4 linked regions of the Homo sapiens genome follow. The protein of the gene in region 4 interacts with the protein of the main gene of each other region in a pairwise test. Each region holds a gene or a part of one and is shown on either strand. Other genes may lie near its edges.

The links. Proteins that work in one complex are often made in the same cells at the same time.
Region 1: the proteins of RNF19B (region 4) and BTG4 interact in a two-hybrid assay, tested with the Homo sapiens proteins (one study listed by BioGRID).
Region 2: the proteins of RNF19B (region 4) and SEC23A interact in a two-hybrid assay, tested with the Homo sapiens proteins (one large-scale study listed by BioGRID and IntAct).
Region 3: the proteins of RNF19B (region 4) and TAP1 interact in binary tests that used the Homo sapiens proteins (3 or more experiments, as listed by UniProt).

The regions. Positions count from the first base shown.
Region 1 is NC_000011.10:111,502,387-111,505,886, reverse strand, and holds part of BTG4 (protein BTG4), read left to right. Parts: intron 1-3,500. UniProt on the Homo sapiens protein: Adapter protein that bridges CNOT7, a catalytic subunit of the CCR4-NOT complex, to EIF4E.
Region 2 is NC_000014.9:39,034,328-39,037,235, forward strand, and holds part of SEC23A (protein transport protein Sec23A), read right to left. Parts: intron 1-2,908.
Region 3 is NC_000006.12:32,850,905-32,855,186, forward strand, and holds the start of TAP1 (antigen peptide transporter 1), read right to left. Parts: upstream 2,801-4,282; 5' UTR 2,733-2,800; coding exon 2,135-2,732; intron 1,858-2,134; exon of another isoform or gene 1,691-1,857; intron 1,599-1,690; coding exon 1,484-1,598; intron 1,336-1,483; coding exon 1,205-1,335; intron 246-1,204; coding exon 40-245; intron 1-39. Other genes in the region: PSMB9 (proteasome subunit beta type-9 precursor), read left to right, coding at 3,326-3,385. UniProt on the Homo sapiens protein: ABC transporter associated with antigen processing. In complex with TAP2 mediates unidirectional translocation of peptide antigens from cytosol to endoplasmic reticulum (ER) for loading onto MHC class I (MHCI) molecules.
Region 4 is NC_000001.11:32,943,568-32,948,444, reverse strand, and holds part of RNF19B (E3 ubiquitin-protein ligase RNF19B), read left to right. Parts: intron 1-78; coding exon of another isoform or gene 79-81; coding exon 82-223; intron 224-1,880; coding exon 1,881-2,043; intron 2,044-2,816; coding exon 2,817-2,931; intron 2,932-4,285; coding exon 4,286-4,426; intron 4,427-4,877.

The DNA.
Region 1 (3,500 bases), on a different chromosome or scaffold from region 4:
GTGATGTTGAGCATTTTTTCATATGTTTGTTAGCTGTTTGTATTTCTTCTTCTGAGAAATGTCTGTTCATGTTCTTTGCCCCATTTTCAATTGGTTTGTTTTATGTTTGTTGAGTTGTTTGAATTTCTTGTAGATTCTGAATACTAATTCTTTGTTGGAGGTATAATTTGTAAATATTTTCTCCCATTCTGTGAGTTGTCTTTTTATCCTATTGATTATTTGTTTTGCTGTGCAGAAACTTTTAGTTTATGTCCTATTTCTCTATCTTCGTTTTTTATTGCGTTTGTGTTTGGAATCTTCATCATAAATTATTTGCCTAAGCCGATGTCCATAAGGAGTTTTCCTAGGTTTTCTTTTAGGATTTTTATAGTTTCAGTTTTGATAGTTTTACATTTAGGTCTTTAATCCATCTATAGTTAATTTTGTATATGTTAAGAGATGGGGAATTAGTTTCAGTCTTCTGCATATGGCTAGCCAGTTTTTCCAGCATCATTTATTGAATAGGGTGTCTATTTCCCATTGTTTATTTCTGTTGACTTTAATCGAAGATCAATTGGTTGTATATATGTAGCTTTATTTCTAGGTTAGAGAACCCCATACTGTACCATTAATCTCTGGGTTTATTTTTGTACTAGTACCATGCGATTTTAGTTACTATAGCCTTGTAGTATAATTTGAAGTCAGGCAATATAATGCCTCTGACTCTGTTCTTTTTGCTTGGGAGTTCCTTGGCTATTTGGGCTTTTTTTGGTTCCCTATGAACTTTAGGACTGTTTTTCCTAATTCTGTGAAAAACAAGGCTGGTAATTGGATAGGGATTGCATTGAATCTGTAGATTGCTTGGGTAATATGGTTATTTTAACCATATTAATTCTTCCAATTCATAGCATGGAATGTTTTTCCATTTATTTGTGTCATCTACAATTTCTTTCATCAGTGTTTTGTAGTTCTCCTTGTAGAGATCTTTCACCTCCTTGGTTAAATGTGTTCTGAAGTATTTTGGTCTTTTTCGTGGCTATCCTAAGTGGGATTGGATTCTTAATTTGGTTCTCAGCTTCAATGTTACTGTTTATAGAAATGCTACTGATTTTTGTACATTGATTTTGTATCCTGAGACTTTACTGAAGTTGTTAATCAGGCCAAGGAGTCTTCTAGAGGAGTCTTTAGGGTTTTCTAGGTATACAATCATATTGTCAGTGAACAGAGATAATTTGACTTCTACTTTTCCAATTCAGATGCCTTTTATTTTTTTCTCTTGCCTGATAGCTCTGGCCAGGACTTCCAGTACTATGTTGAATAGGAGTTATCTTGGTTTCTAACTTGAAACGTTATATAAATGTATGTATTTTTTGTGGTCTTTCAAACAATGCCACTTACATTGTGAATGCTCAGTAATGCAGATAGAAAATACAAATTAGGAAGAAGCTTGTGGCGGATAAAACACTTGCTTAGTATTATTGGTAAAGGAATTTTATTTTGATTAGGCTGCACTAAAATTAATTTCTTTTGAGTTCAAATCAACATTGTATGGCTGTAGAATTTTATTAGATAATGTTTTGGGAAATGCAATTTTGTTTCAGCAATTAATGTAACTTCCTTTTATGTGGCTTGACCATAATGGAACTGAGTTTATGTGTGGGTTACAGAATCAGTTCATTATTTTATAAAATAGTGCTACTTGCTTGCTGTTGTTAAAAAAATACTTTCTGTCAGAAGTGGACTTTTGCTAAAACATCTATACCTTTCCCCTCTTTAGCAATAACATGTATTTGTGAATGGAGGGGTGAGACTACGGATATAACTTGTAGTTTAGGGAGGGAAGCTAAAGAAATGAAATGGGGTTATGATAAGACTGGTTATTACATCACAAGTCCAGCAAATTTAACATTCAATTCAGATGATATTTTAAAATTACTTTGTCTATTTTAAAACTTTTATAAGCATAACTATTTTCATTTTATAAGTGAAGTTTAGCAAAAACCAAGAAGACAAATGTAGAACCAGATTTTCGAGTTTTACCTTCATCGATGAACTTTGGGGCTTGACTATTCCTTAGCCATCAAGTTGAATTTCCTAATTTTAAAATGAAGAATGCAATTCTAGAAACTATTACTTGTACAAGGTCATGTCAGTCATATTCATGTTTTATACCATTTGATTCTCTGTTACAGGCATAATAGGAAATAAAATATGTGTATGTTGCTTCACTGCCTTTCTGTTCTTCATCCTCACTCCAAATGGCCAGAACCTCTTATTTCTTGTTTTCTGTGGTTCTTCGCCCAGACATAATCCCCTCACCCAAACAGAACACCATCCTGTTGCTCTACTATGGATAGTTCACTGGACATTTTCAAAAAGATATCCTTGAAAGACAAGGTTTTAAGCAAGGGAACAAATGTCTTATAATGAGAATTTTAGACATGACACAAGGATAGTGGGAGAGTTGTTCAAATTTCAGCAGTAATTTTCTCTTCTACTTAGCTCTGGGATTGGCTTAGGCCAGACCAGGTTGGTCTTTCTGCTAAATTCTGACATCTTGTCAGTGGACATTACTACTTGGGTATTTAATTGCCATTGAAAGCTCAGTATACCTCAATCTGAATGAATCACCATTTGTTTTATACCGACTCTTCCACTGAACTTCATTCTTTCAATGATAACATTAATCTGTTGGTTACAAGTGTTTGAAACTTGGGGTAAATTTTGAGTATTTCATTTCCCAAACTTTACATCCAAGTAGTCACTTGTGTATGTATTTGGTTTCCCTCTCTAGATGATAAGCCTCTTGAAAGGAAAGTTGAATTTTGTTTTTACCCCCAGCCCCACTAATACTTAGTGTCTGTGAAGTAGGTGGTCAGTAAATAGTCACTAAGTGAGTGTTAATTAAAACAGAAGGTGTAGTTGTCATTAATGTAAAGGAGGTGATTTAAATAAGGTGTTTCAAGTCATAAACAAGTAACGGAAGGAAACCTTGCATGATGTTTACTTTTTATTTGATTGTTCTTTCCTGAAATCTAAGTACATTGTTATTCTACTGTTCTATTCATAACTTTCAAGGCCTGCCTGGGCCTGTTGCAGAAAATAATGCTAGGAGAGGGTTCAAAACCTCATTAATGTACTTCACCAACTCAAAGTGCAAGGGAACAGTTTGTCATCAGGAAGATGAAGTAATGAAAGAATTATAAAAACACCTGGCACCATTCTATTATTGTAAATGCAAACTGACCATTTGAAAAGAAAAAAAATTTTGTGTTTGTTAATGCATCTGTTGCCTTTAGTTCAGAAGCAAAATTTCAGCAGTATACAAGGAGTTACCCTAATTTTCAGCTTTGTCCCTTGTAACATAAATTTTAAAAAATAATCTTTGCAAAAGTTACCCTAGCAAATGGCTAGAAAATACGAGAATAAATGATGCAAATTTGTCCTAATAATCTGTTAAACTTAAGGCATTATTAAGCAATCAAAAGTGTAAAATAAGCTTAAAATCTTCTTCACAGCTA
Region 2 (2,908 bases), on a different chromosome or scaffold from region 4:
ACAAGTTGTTGTAATGATTAAATGAGTTAAATTCTATAAAGCAAACAGAACAGTACCTAGTACACACAGTAGACATACATGTTTTAGCTATTTCTATTGTTCCTCCTGTTCAAAAATCTATAACAATGAAATACTTTTCTTTATTCTATATGCATAGCTAACACAGAAAAGCACAAGTCTCAAAACTGTAACCTAAACCAGTAACAACCTCATGGCTCTTACTTTTTTCTTCCTGTAACTATGCCTGATTTTATTTTCATTTTACAATGTTTTCCATCTCAAGTCACCCAATCTCAGAGCCATTTCTCCTAGTCAAGACAAAATATAAGGATTTCCTAATTTATATACCACAGAGCTCCTGCTTGAAATGATAAATACCAATGCTCATTCGATTTTATAAAAAATTAGCAGTTAGCTGATCTCAACTTTTCAAATGGACCCTTTTTCTATTTAAAATATATCCAGGATTAGGCAGAAAGGTACAAGCTTTACATTATTTAGTATATGAGGCACTACAGCAACAGAGGCCTCCAGCACTGTCACAGAAGTGTTGCAGTGGTGCCCTCTTACGGCCGTTCATGGATAATACTTATCATAGGGTCCTTGATTTCTGACCCCCAAAAAATCCTGTAAGCTATTAGAGTCCATTAATTTTTAGTAAAATTCTTGGTTACTGTTATTTCCTTTAAATGCAATCATCAAATTAACTTGATTAAAAATTCAGAGTCTGGAGTTAGACCTTGGTTAAAATCTAGACCCTGCCACAGTTTAGCTACATGATCTTGCATAAAATACTTAATCTATATGAGCCTCAATTTCCTCTCATGAAATATAGGATTACTAGTATCCACCTTATAAAAGTTAATTAAATGAGAGTACACTAAAAGCATAGTGACTAAAACAGTAGATTCAGTGTATTAGATATTATGATTATTAAAATATTGACATCATTACTCATAAAAATCTTAAGAAAGACCTGAGCACTCTTATTTATGCCTGTAATGCCCCTACTTCCAGGCAGTAACAATTACACTTCAGAGTTTAAAATAGGTTTCCTTTCCCATGTTAAATATAAGAAGTGACTTTTTTTTCCATTGATAATAGTGAAAACTAATAGCTAACATTTACTGAGTATTACTGTCCATTTCAAGCATGTTTTATTAAACTCTATAGACAAGGAAGTGAAAACAAAGAGAAGTCAAGTAACTTGCAGAGTCTGCATTTTCCATTACCAGCCTTCCACCCTTCCAAGATTACTTTTTATAACCTCCCCAACTTTTAGAACTTTTGGACCTGGGATTCAATTTATTTACCTATATTACAAAAACTCTTAACTCCTAGCCACCTCCACAGATTTCCAATATTCTAATCTCTGCTCTCTCCTGTCCAGATCTATTGTATTCAATATATGCTATGTTTAAGGTCCTATGGAAAATCAAAAATGAAAATGACAGTTATTGCCTCAAGTAATTAATAATCTAACAGGAGCAATGCCATAAAAAATGGAGGCGGGAAAAGGGATGACAGGACAGGGATATTACACAAATTCAATCATGCAATTGTAGGACGGTGCTATGGTTTGAATATCTGTCCCTTCCAAAACTCATTTTGAAAATCCCCAATGTGGCAGTATAAAGGTGGGGCCTTTAAGAGGTGACTGGGTCATAAGGGTTCCGCCCTCATGAAACAATTAAAATCTATTCATGGATACTCCCAGGCACAGTGGCTCACACCTGTAATCCCAGCACTTTGGGAGGCAGAGGTGGGCAGATCACGAGATCAGAAGATCGAGACCATCCTGGCCAACATGGTGAAACTCCATCTCTACTAAAAATACCAAAAAAATTAGCTGAGTATGGTGGTGTGTGCCTGTAGTCCCAGCTACTCAGGAGGCTGAGGCAGGAGAATCGCTTGAACCCAGGAGGCAGAGGTTGCAGCGAGTCGAGATCGCGTCACTACACTCCAGCCTGGCAACAGAGCAAGACTCCGTCTCAAAAAAAAAAAAAAAAAAAAAAAAAGAACATTATGGAAGCATGCTCTAGATATTTTTAGTAAATAAAATAGGCCCTCACCACTGCTGCAAAAGCGTTTTATTAATCTTCAGTTGATTTTTGTATTCTTTAGAACTGTTTTTAATCTTTTCTAGTTTTTTTGGCCCCTAACTCCAGCCTTTTTCACTCCTAAATAATCTCATATTATTGAAAAGAAACAGGCAATTATCCAATGTGAGTTTTCACTCCACCTAAAAACCTTTCTGTCTTCACCCTTCTTACCTTTTGCTTTTGCAGAAATAAGTGCCCTGCCTCCTTACCAATGCTTAACGTCCATATACTGCTTATGATCATATTGTCTCCTGAGGATCTTAAATATCTGTTCTTTTGTGTCTTTCCTATGCTTGGTCTCCAAATAAGTTCTGTGCCCTTACCGTAATAACAATCATCTGCCTATCCTACTGCTTATCCTCAGGTTAAATTTGCAAAAGAATCATTTATACTTTCGACCTCCGCTTCTTTCTCACCCACTAATTCCTTATAAATTTATCTTCTTACTCAACCACCATACTAAAGCCGCTTACACAATGCCACGAATAACCTCCTAGCCATCAAATCCAAGCACCTTTTCTCACTCTGTATCCCTCTTCAACTGTCTGCGGCATGTCAGTTTGTTACCTCCTTCTTCTTCCTTCTATAAAGTCACCTTTTATGACATACTATTCTTTTCATTCTGCCTCTCTGATAATTCACTAAACACTCCTACCACTTGTACTCCCCTGAAGTTTTTGTCTCATCTCTCCTTTACCTCTTTACTCTCTCTTCAGACAAGCATTTACTGTGATGACTTTATCACCTTTCTCATTCTTGCCCTGACCATCAAACCCAAATTGCCAACAGCCCACTCAACATGGCCA
Region 3 (4,282 bases), on a different chromosome or scaffold from region 4:
TGAGGGTCTGTGTAGAGCGGGCCAACTCCATGAACATACCTGGTACCATTTTCCCACCTTCTTGGGCAGAAGGAAAAGCAGAGGCAGGGTGATCAGGGTGACCATGGTGAGGGACACTGATCCCCAGAGCATGATCCCCAAGAGACATAGGCCTCGCACCAGGTACCACAGAAATAAGCTCAGATTCTCACTCAGAGAATCACTCAGGGTGGACGTGTCCTCTGTTACCCGAGACATGATGTTACCTGCAGGGTTGGGGAGAAGAGAGTGAGGTGAATCAGACAGGTTCCAAGTGATGAGACGAACTAACAATGAGCCAGGATGCCAGGGTCAGGGGTGTCAACATGGGGTTCTAAGGAGGCTGCAGGAAACAAGGTTAGGGTTCTCCAGAGGTCTGCAAATCTCAGTGCAGGGAAGATGAGTGTTAAAGAGGAAAGGCCTGACCTTCATTTTAATTATAAAGTCATTAATGCACATGTGAATTTCCATTTTCCTGAAAGCTTTCTGTTCCCTAGAGAACCTGTATGTCCCATGCTATACACACAGGCAGGAAGAGCTTAAACTGGTCACATAACAGAGATGGAGGAGGAGGGTGCTGCTAGGAAGCATGCCAAAGTCTGTGGAGCACTCACTGGGACTAGGGTTCTAACCCCAGGTCTATCTCTAGCCATATGTAACTGTACAGCTTCTAGTGCTGCTAGAAAGCATGCCGAAGTCTGTGGAGCACTCAAGAGACCAGGGTTCTAACCCCAAGTGTGTCTCTAGCCATATGTAACTGTGCAGTTTCAGCATTTAGGGTCTTGGCCTCAGTTTCCTTCTCTGTCAGATGAGGCAGTTGGTCTCTATGAGCTCAAAATTTCCAGGTTTGAAATTCTATGGTTTCTATCTAAGGATACATAGGAATAGATTTATAAGAAAATGCTAGATGAAAACTCTAGGTTTTTCTTAAGGTAAGGAGGACAATATTTTGCTCCTGAGGTATATCAAGAATGAGAAAAACAATTGTGTGTGTGTGTGTGTGAGAGAGAGAGAGAGAGAGACAGAGACAGAGAGAGAGAGACAGGGAGAGGGTATATCAAGAATGAGAAGGAACAATGTGTGTATGTGTGTGTGAGAGAGAGAGAGCGGGGAGGGGGGAGATCAAAGCAGATGTATGAGGATATGAACAGTACATGGCGTATAATGAAAGAGTTTCAGGAGAAACCTGTCTGGTTCTGTTGGAAAAACTCCGTCTCCTGGCGCAGGACAGCCCCAAACACCTCTCCCTGCAAGTGGCTGTGCACGTGGCCCATGGTGTTGTTATAGATCCCGTCACCCACGAACTCCAGCACTGCACTATAAAGAACCCGGAAAAAAAGGGGATCAGGGTGTGTTCAGGGAACAGACTGAAGGTCCCAGGTATCCCCATATAAGTGCATTTCGGACAGCAGCCCCAACTTCCAACTCCCTCATTTGCAGGGTGCCCCATTTTCAGCCCCCAGACCTGGCTATGGTGAGAATGGACATGAGAGTTAAGTTTCGAGTGAAGGTATCGGCTGAGCCATCTTGTAGAATCCAGTCAGTGAGGCGGCCCGTAAAGAATGGAATGGCCATCTCCCCTGGAGAAAGAGAAGAGAGGTCACGCACAAATATTAAGTCTAAGTAGGTCAGTTCCAGTCAGACTGGCCCCACCACGCCTCCTCCCCCTCACCATTATCCTGGAGGGCATCAGCAGAAAGGAAACACTGACGTCTCAATCCCGAACCTAAATAGGCTGCCCTGGAACTCACTACCCTGTGGTTGCTCTACCAGAACTTTCAGGATTTTATTAGGAAGGCTGGAGATCATGAAGTAGAAAAGCCTCCTGTTAGAGATGAGGATGCCCCGCCCTTCGGCCCCAGAGCAAAGGATTTCCCCGCTTCCGGCGTGGCCCAAAGAATCAAGACCCGGTCAGCAATGGAGCCCAGAACCTCTGGCCCCCGCCAGTCCAGTGCCGTTTCTTCTACACCGAAGTGGTGTTCCAAGACCCACGCTAGGAGTCCTTCTCCTGCTCCACATTTCCCAGAACCCACGCTACTCTACCTTACTGACAATTACCTTTGATTCCTGTCCCAGTCCCCTTGTGTCCTCCCCTCTTGCCCTGCGTTCCCCTTACCAAGAGAGGAGAGGACCACCAGGACCAGGAACAGCGAGAGGCGGCGCGTCTCCGAGCCCAGGCAGCCTAGAAGCCGACGCACAGGGTTTCCAGAGCCGCCCTGACCGCCGGGCACCCAGAGGCTCCCGAGTTTGTGCCACAGGGCTGCTGCGGGCAGTGCCGCTGCATAACTGACAACGAAGGCGGTAGGGTGACTTCCCCAGTGCAGTAGCCTGGTGCTATCCGCGGACCCGGGGGCTCCCCATGAGATCAGCTCTCGGAACAAGGCAAGTCCCGGCAGGGCCAAGCCCAGTGCCGCAGCTAATGGCTTCAAAGCAGCCAGCCAGCCCTGGGCACCTGCGTTTTCGCTCTTGGAGCCAACCGTTGCCCTGAGGACCCCGCAGGCCCCCAGCCAGAGCACGGCCCAGCGGCTCAGGCCCACCGCCCAGACCCGGAGCAGTGGCAGCGCGGTGGGCACCAGCAGGGAGAATATGCGGGGCAGCGCGGTCCGGAGCAGCACCCAGTCGGCGAGAAGTAGCAGTACTGTCCCCAGCCATGCGAGAGAAGCTCCGGGGAGGCAGCGGCACCCGCGGGGAGCGGGACACCTAGAGCTAGCCATTGGCACTCGGACGCCGTCCCGGTCCCGGCCGGGCCTGGGACTCTCCGCGCCCCGGTGGGGCCTGAAGCTCCGGGTACCGCCGAGTCCTCCCCTACTGGCGGCTGGGGGAGGGAACGAGGGCGGGGCTCTCGGAAAGTCCCAGGAACAGGCTGATCCTGCGCTGGCGAGAAGCTCAGCCATTTAGGGGAAAGCGAAATCGAAAGCGGCCGCCTGCTCACTAGATAACGCCTACTTCCAAAAGTGGCCTGCCCAGACTATTTTGGTAGCAAGCGTGGAAATCAGATCTGAGAATCTCGGGAGCAGCCCTGGTGCCCAATTTTCTCCATCACGCACACCCTTCTCGCCTCTCCCTGCCTCCTGCCTTTCCACTTGCACCAGTTTTCCCACCCCAGCCTCAGGGCGGGGCTGCCTCGTCACTTGTCTCGGGGCAGATCTGCCCTACACACGTTAGCGCCGCGCGCAAAGCAGCCCCGCAGCACCCAGGCGCCTCCTGGCGGCGCCGCGAAGGGGCGGGGCTGTCGGCTGCGCGTTGTGCGCTGTCCCAGGTTGGAAACCAGTGCCCCAGGCGGCGAGGAGAGCGGTGCCTTGCAGGGATGCTGCGGGCGGGAGCACCAACCGGGGACTTACCCCGGGCGGGAGAAGTCCACACCGGGGTAATGGGTCTGGGCTTGAGGGTTGGCAGAGGGGTGGAGGAGATGCAGCGGCCAGGGGACCCTGGAAGCGCGCGCGGAGAAGTGAATGCAGAGACCAACGGGAGCGCAGGGAGGTCGCCTGTAGCAGCCAGCGCTTGCAACCCGCAATGAGCATAGAGTATTTCTTTTCTGAGGGGGGTCGTCTAGAGTGTCCGTGAAGGGAACAGGCACGCGAGGCTGGTGGAAAAAGCGGGTGCTTTGACTCTTAGCTGGAAGCGTCAACGGGAAGCTACTCTAAAGCGCTTTCGCTTTCACTCTGGTCCCGGACAGTGGGGGCTGGTTAAATCAAGAAAGGGGGTTGGGGATGGTGCAAAGAGATGAGGAAATGGTGCCCTGGGTGAAGTAGAACAGCACTTGGGAGAAGGAAATATAGGCACTTATTGAGAAGGACCAACTCATCACACAGACTTTTGATAAACTTGCCACTGGGCAACTCTTAGCCCAAGCACTGATAATGGGCGTTCTGTGTTAACTAGTGATGCCCTTCCCTAGCTTGACCCAGGAAGGCCTCTCCTTGGCCCAGATGCTGCCTTACTCCCTTCCCTGTGTCTTCCCTGCCCACTCCCATGTGCCCACTGGGGGGACTTTGCTTAGGATGGGCGCCTGGGGCAGATGGCAGCCCCAAGACTGGCTGGCTGGCTTCTGCTCTGGACTACTGCCACCACTCGTGGCTTGGGGGCGGCTTTGTTAGAGAGGAATAGCCTCTAACTTGAAGTTAACCCTGTTCTTTGACCCTCTATTCATGATAAGTCGGTCCGTCGGAAAGCATACTCAGAGGAGCGTCCTTTGGGGCCAGAGTAACTTACGGCCTGGTAAGAAAGACACAGTGAAACCACTTATAATTTGGGAAATCTCCCC
Region 4 (4,877 bases):
ATATACTCCTAGGAACAATTAAATCAAACTGGATTTAACTAGGGGTATTTTTTCTACCCATTCTTCCCCCACTCATAGCAGATGACATCAAGCCATGCCCACGATGCAGTGCATACATTATCAAGATGAATGATGGAAGCTGTAATCACATGACCTGTGCAGTGTGTGGCTGTGAATTCTGTTGGCTTTGTATGAAAGAGATCTCAGACTTGCATTACCTCAGGTAAGATGGGAAATGCATCCATTCCTTTCGTAGTCTCATTCTCTTACTGATTTAGGGAAAAGGATGTCAAAAAGACACATCCGTTCTCTCATTACAGGTTTAAGGAAGCTGTGAAAACTTCTTCTGACATGCTCCTCTAATCATGTTTTCACCAGCTACTATTCTGTTTCTACCTTTCTTTGCTTGCCATATTACAGGTAGTCTGGACTTGCTTTTTCCCTTTTGCTGTCTTGCCTCCATACTTGTTCATGTTCTTTCCTTTGCCTAGAATGCTTTCTGCCTACCTTCCAGTATCCTCCTTTTATCTCAACTTGTTCAGTTCTTATCTTTTAAGAGCCACTTAAATGCCTTTCATCCATGTTGCCTCTCCTTTTTCCGCCTCATTCTTTGACTTTCTTTTATCTTTTGTCATAAATATCGTCAGTACTTTACACTTCACGTACCTATCTTATCTTACTAAACTGTAAGTATCTTGAGGCTAGAGTTGTGACCTTTTTACAGTTTTTTGCATTTAGTGAGTTCCCAAGGAATTCATTAAGTGAATTCTTTTTTTTTTTTTTTTTAAGACAGAGTTTCTCTCTGTCGCCCAGGCTGGAGTGCAGTGGCTCGATCTCGACTCACTGCAACCTCCACCTCCCAGGTTCAAGTGATTGTCCTGCCTCAGCCTCCTAAGTAGCTGGGATTACAGGCACCTGCCACCATGCCCAGCTAATTTTTGTATTTTTAGTGGAGGCGGGGTTTCACCATGTTAGCCAGCCTGGTCTCGAACTCGAACCTCAGGTGGTCCGCCTGCCTCGGCCTCCCAAAGTTCTGGGATTACAAGCGCGAGCCACCGCGCCCAGCCTCATTGAGTGAATATTAAAATGTTGTGGAGGAGTTAATATTTACAAACAAAATGTTTGCTAATATTTACAAATAAACAAAATGTGTTAATATTTACAAACAAACATTCATTGTGTAAATGAAACACAACACCTTCATTGCCAATTTGTCGAACATTTGAGTACTTACTGTGTGCTAGTCATTGGGGACATAGGGGTGAGTAAGACATGATCCCTATTTTCAAAATTGTTTATCCCTTCTAGTGGAGAAGATAGCACAAAGAGAATGGGCAAAAATGGTTGGGCACAGAAGGGCTGACTGTAAAAGTAGCCAAACTCAGAATACCAAACTGATAGAAAGGTTATGATGAGGTCTTTTTATATCCTCTCCCACGAACATGGTTTGCAGTATCTATTAGGTATGGTAGGACATATGCCAAGAAAACTACACAAATCAGAGTGTTCATTAGTGCAGGGTGCAGTGTGTCTGGATGGGATGTCAAGTGCATAAGGCTATGCAGCATCCCAAGTATTGTCAGTCATGGAAGCTAGATCAGTTTTGGTGGGTTAGGGAAGACAGAATTCAGCAGAGAAGAATGGAAAAGGAATTTCAAGTCTGGAAGCCTGTCTTTACAACAACAACCAAAAAAGTTAAAGAGCCCAGAGCTCTAATAGTCTGGCCTTGTCCTTTGCTCTCCCTTGTGTAATGTATTCATTTCCCATAAACTCTTCTGTTAATCCTTACTGAAAAGAAGGCTGTTGCTGTTATCAAGCCCTATGATAATACTAGCTGTATTTGTAATGTTGACATTAACTTCAGTCTGTTTCCCCTGCAGCCCCTCTGGCTGTACATTCTGGGGCAAGAAGCCATGGAGCCGTAAGAAGAAAATTCTTTGGCAGCTGGGCACGTTGATTGGTGCTCCAGTGGGGATTTCTCTCATTGCTGGCATTGCCATTCCTGCCATGGTCATTGGCATTCCTGTTTATGTTGGAAGGAAGGTAAGAAAGACATGCTGGTTTCTGTGCTTGTTTCAACTTTAGGTTCGTTAGTAAAGGTTTGAGGGAAATGGGAAGGAGCTATGTTTCAGAGCTGCCTGAAAACCAGCTGGTTCTTAGATAAAAATAACCTTACTTTCTTAAATGGATTTTCATAAACCCCCATGAGATCTGAAAGTTCTTATTAACATCCTGGGCCTGGCTTGTCTCAGTGACTTAAAGGTAGAATGCTGGGCCAGGCATGATGGTTCACATTTGTAATACGTGGCCTAGCACTTTGGGAAGCCAAGGCAGGTAGATCAGTTGAGCCCAGGTGTTTGAGACCAGCCTGGGCAACATGACAAAACCCATCTGTACCCAAAAAAATAGAAAAATTAGCTGGGTATGGTGGCATGTGCCTACAGTCCCAGCTACTAGGGAGGCTGAGGTGGGAGGATTGCTTGAGCCCAGGGACGTAGAGGTTGCAGTGAGCCAAGATCGCACCACTGCACTCCAGCCTGCATGACAGACTCCAAAAAAAAAAATAAAAGAAGAAGGTAAAATGCTTACTTCATTCTGCTGGAGTTATTTTGTCTCTTTTTGGATTAACTTTGCCTGTATTACTTTATATCTTCCAGGTCTGAGTTAGGTTAAAATTTGATAAAGATGCCTATTTGGGGTAGAGGATATGTTTTAATATAGATAACTTACAAGTGAATATTCACCTGTCCTTTTTTTCTCTGGCAAAAGATTGATGTCCTAACCTGCTGACCTGGATTTTCTTTTTTTATTCTTAGATTCACAGCAGGTATGAGGGAAGGAAAACCTCCAAACACAAGAGGAATTTGGCTATCACTGGAGGAGTGACTTTGTCGGTCATTGCATCCCCAGTTATTGCTGCAGTTAGTGTTGGTAAGCTAGTCAGGACCACACCTCTTCTCTCTCAGCTTTCTGACCATAGCAGTTTAGCCAGATGGCCAGATGTTTCTCAAAGACTCCTACATTTTATGCGAACCCACCTTGATAGTAAATTCTGTTAGGCACCATGATTATGATTATTTTTAAGTTTTTCAAGCACACCAAATTATCAGAGTGTGCAATCTTTTGTTCTTAAGTTAGTGCCTAGAACTCCATTTGGCACATAGAAAAGGTTGAATTACAGAAACTTATTTTAAGCCCTAGTTTTCACCTTTCATCTTCCTTCTCTACTTGCCATGAAATCCACAAAACAAAATTACTTTTGTTTTGATTTGTTTAATGCTTCACATTACTTTGGGAGGCATAAGAGTTTGTTTTAGAATAATAATAGTGTAACTAACATTTAATGTGGCTCTTCATGTGCCAGGAGTGGTTCTGAGACTTTTGCATATATTAATTTATTTAATCCTCACAATCCTTACAAAAGGAAGCACAATTTTAATAGAAAGGTGCAGTAATTGGCTGGGCGCAGTGGCTCACGCCTGTAATTCCAGTGTTTTGGGAGGCCGAGGCGGGCGGATCACGAGGTCAGGAGATCGAGACCATCCTGGCTAACACGGTGAAACCCCATCTCTACTAAAAATACAGAAAATCAGCCGGGTGTGGTAGCGGGTGCCTGTAGTCCCAGCTACTTGGGAGGCTGAGGCAGGAGAATGGCGTGAACCTGGGAGGCGGAGCTTGCAGTGAGCCGAGATCGTGCCACTGCACTCCAGCCTGGGCAACAGAGTGAGACTCCGTCTCAAAAAAAAAAAAGAAAGGTGCAGTAATTTTCCCAAGGTCACTTAGCTGGGACATGAATCAAGTTAATCTGCCTTCAGATCCTGTTCTCTTAACAGCTAAGCCATTCTACCTCACACAGCAGTAAGATTTTGGAATTAACATCCTGAGGAGATCCTAAACTCCAAGCAGTAGTCACTTATTTAATATTTGATTCTTGATTGGCTCTTGATTGGGTTAGCATTTCAGCAGTGATTAGAAGAGGGGAAAATGAAAGCAACATATATTTACTGTGCAAAACACAGTACATAGCATTCTCATTTGATTATTGACAACCCTGGGAAGATAGGTCCAAGGTTATACAGCTAGTAAATGGAGCCAAGAATCTAATCCAGACCTTTCTGATTTCTAGCCTGGTCATCATTCTGTTACACCAGGCCACCTTTTTGGGATAGCCACTTTCTGTCTTCCTTTCTTTATAAAGTGGTTTGTCCATGCCCAGACTGGGAAGAAGAATTCAGGGCACTTGCAACCTAATAGCCAGCTGACATGTTTCCTTCTCTTCCCCCAGGTATTGGTGTCCCCATTATGCTGGCATATGTTTATGGGGTTGTGCCCATTTCTCTTTGTCGTGGAGGCGGCTGTGGAGTTAGCACAGCCAACGGAAAAGGAGTGAAAATTGAATTTGATGAAGATGATGGTCCAATCACAGGTAAAAAGCAGGATGTTTATTTCCATTTGAATTTATGATATACAAGATAAAAATCAGTAAAATTCAGCGCATTTTACAGGGAGATTGTCATTGGATTACTTTGGATAATGAGCTTTGTAGGGGGTAAAGTATTTTTAGCTTTTCATTTCTTTGTTCCAAAGTTATTAGGTTAATTCCCCTGGTACTTGCCTCTGTGTGGCAGGTACAAACTAGTAGGAATCCAAGTAACTCCAAGTATGCTGGTAGTAGTAGTGATTATAATAACATCTTTATATCTGCACAGTACTTGATAATTTTCAGAGTATTTTACACAATTATCTCACTTGCTTTTTACAACAAACAGCTCTCTGACGAGGGAGGATGGAGCTGTTATCCCCATTTAAATGGGAATTTCTTTTTTTTTTTTTGAGACGGAGTCTCTGTCACCCAGGCTGGAGTACGATGTCGCGAT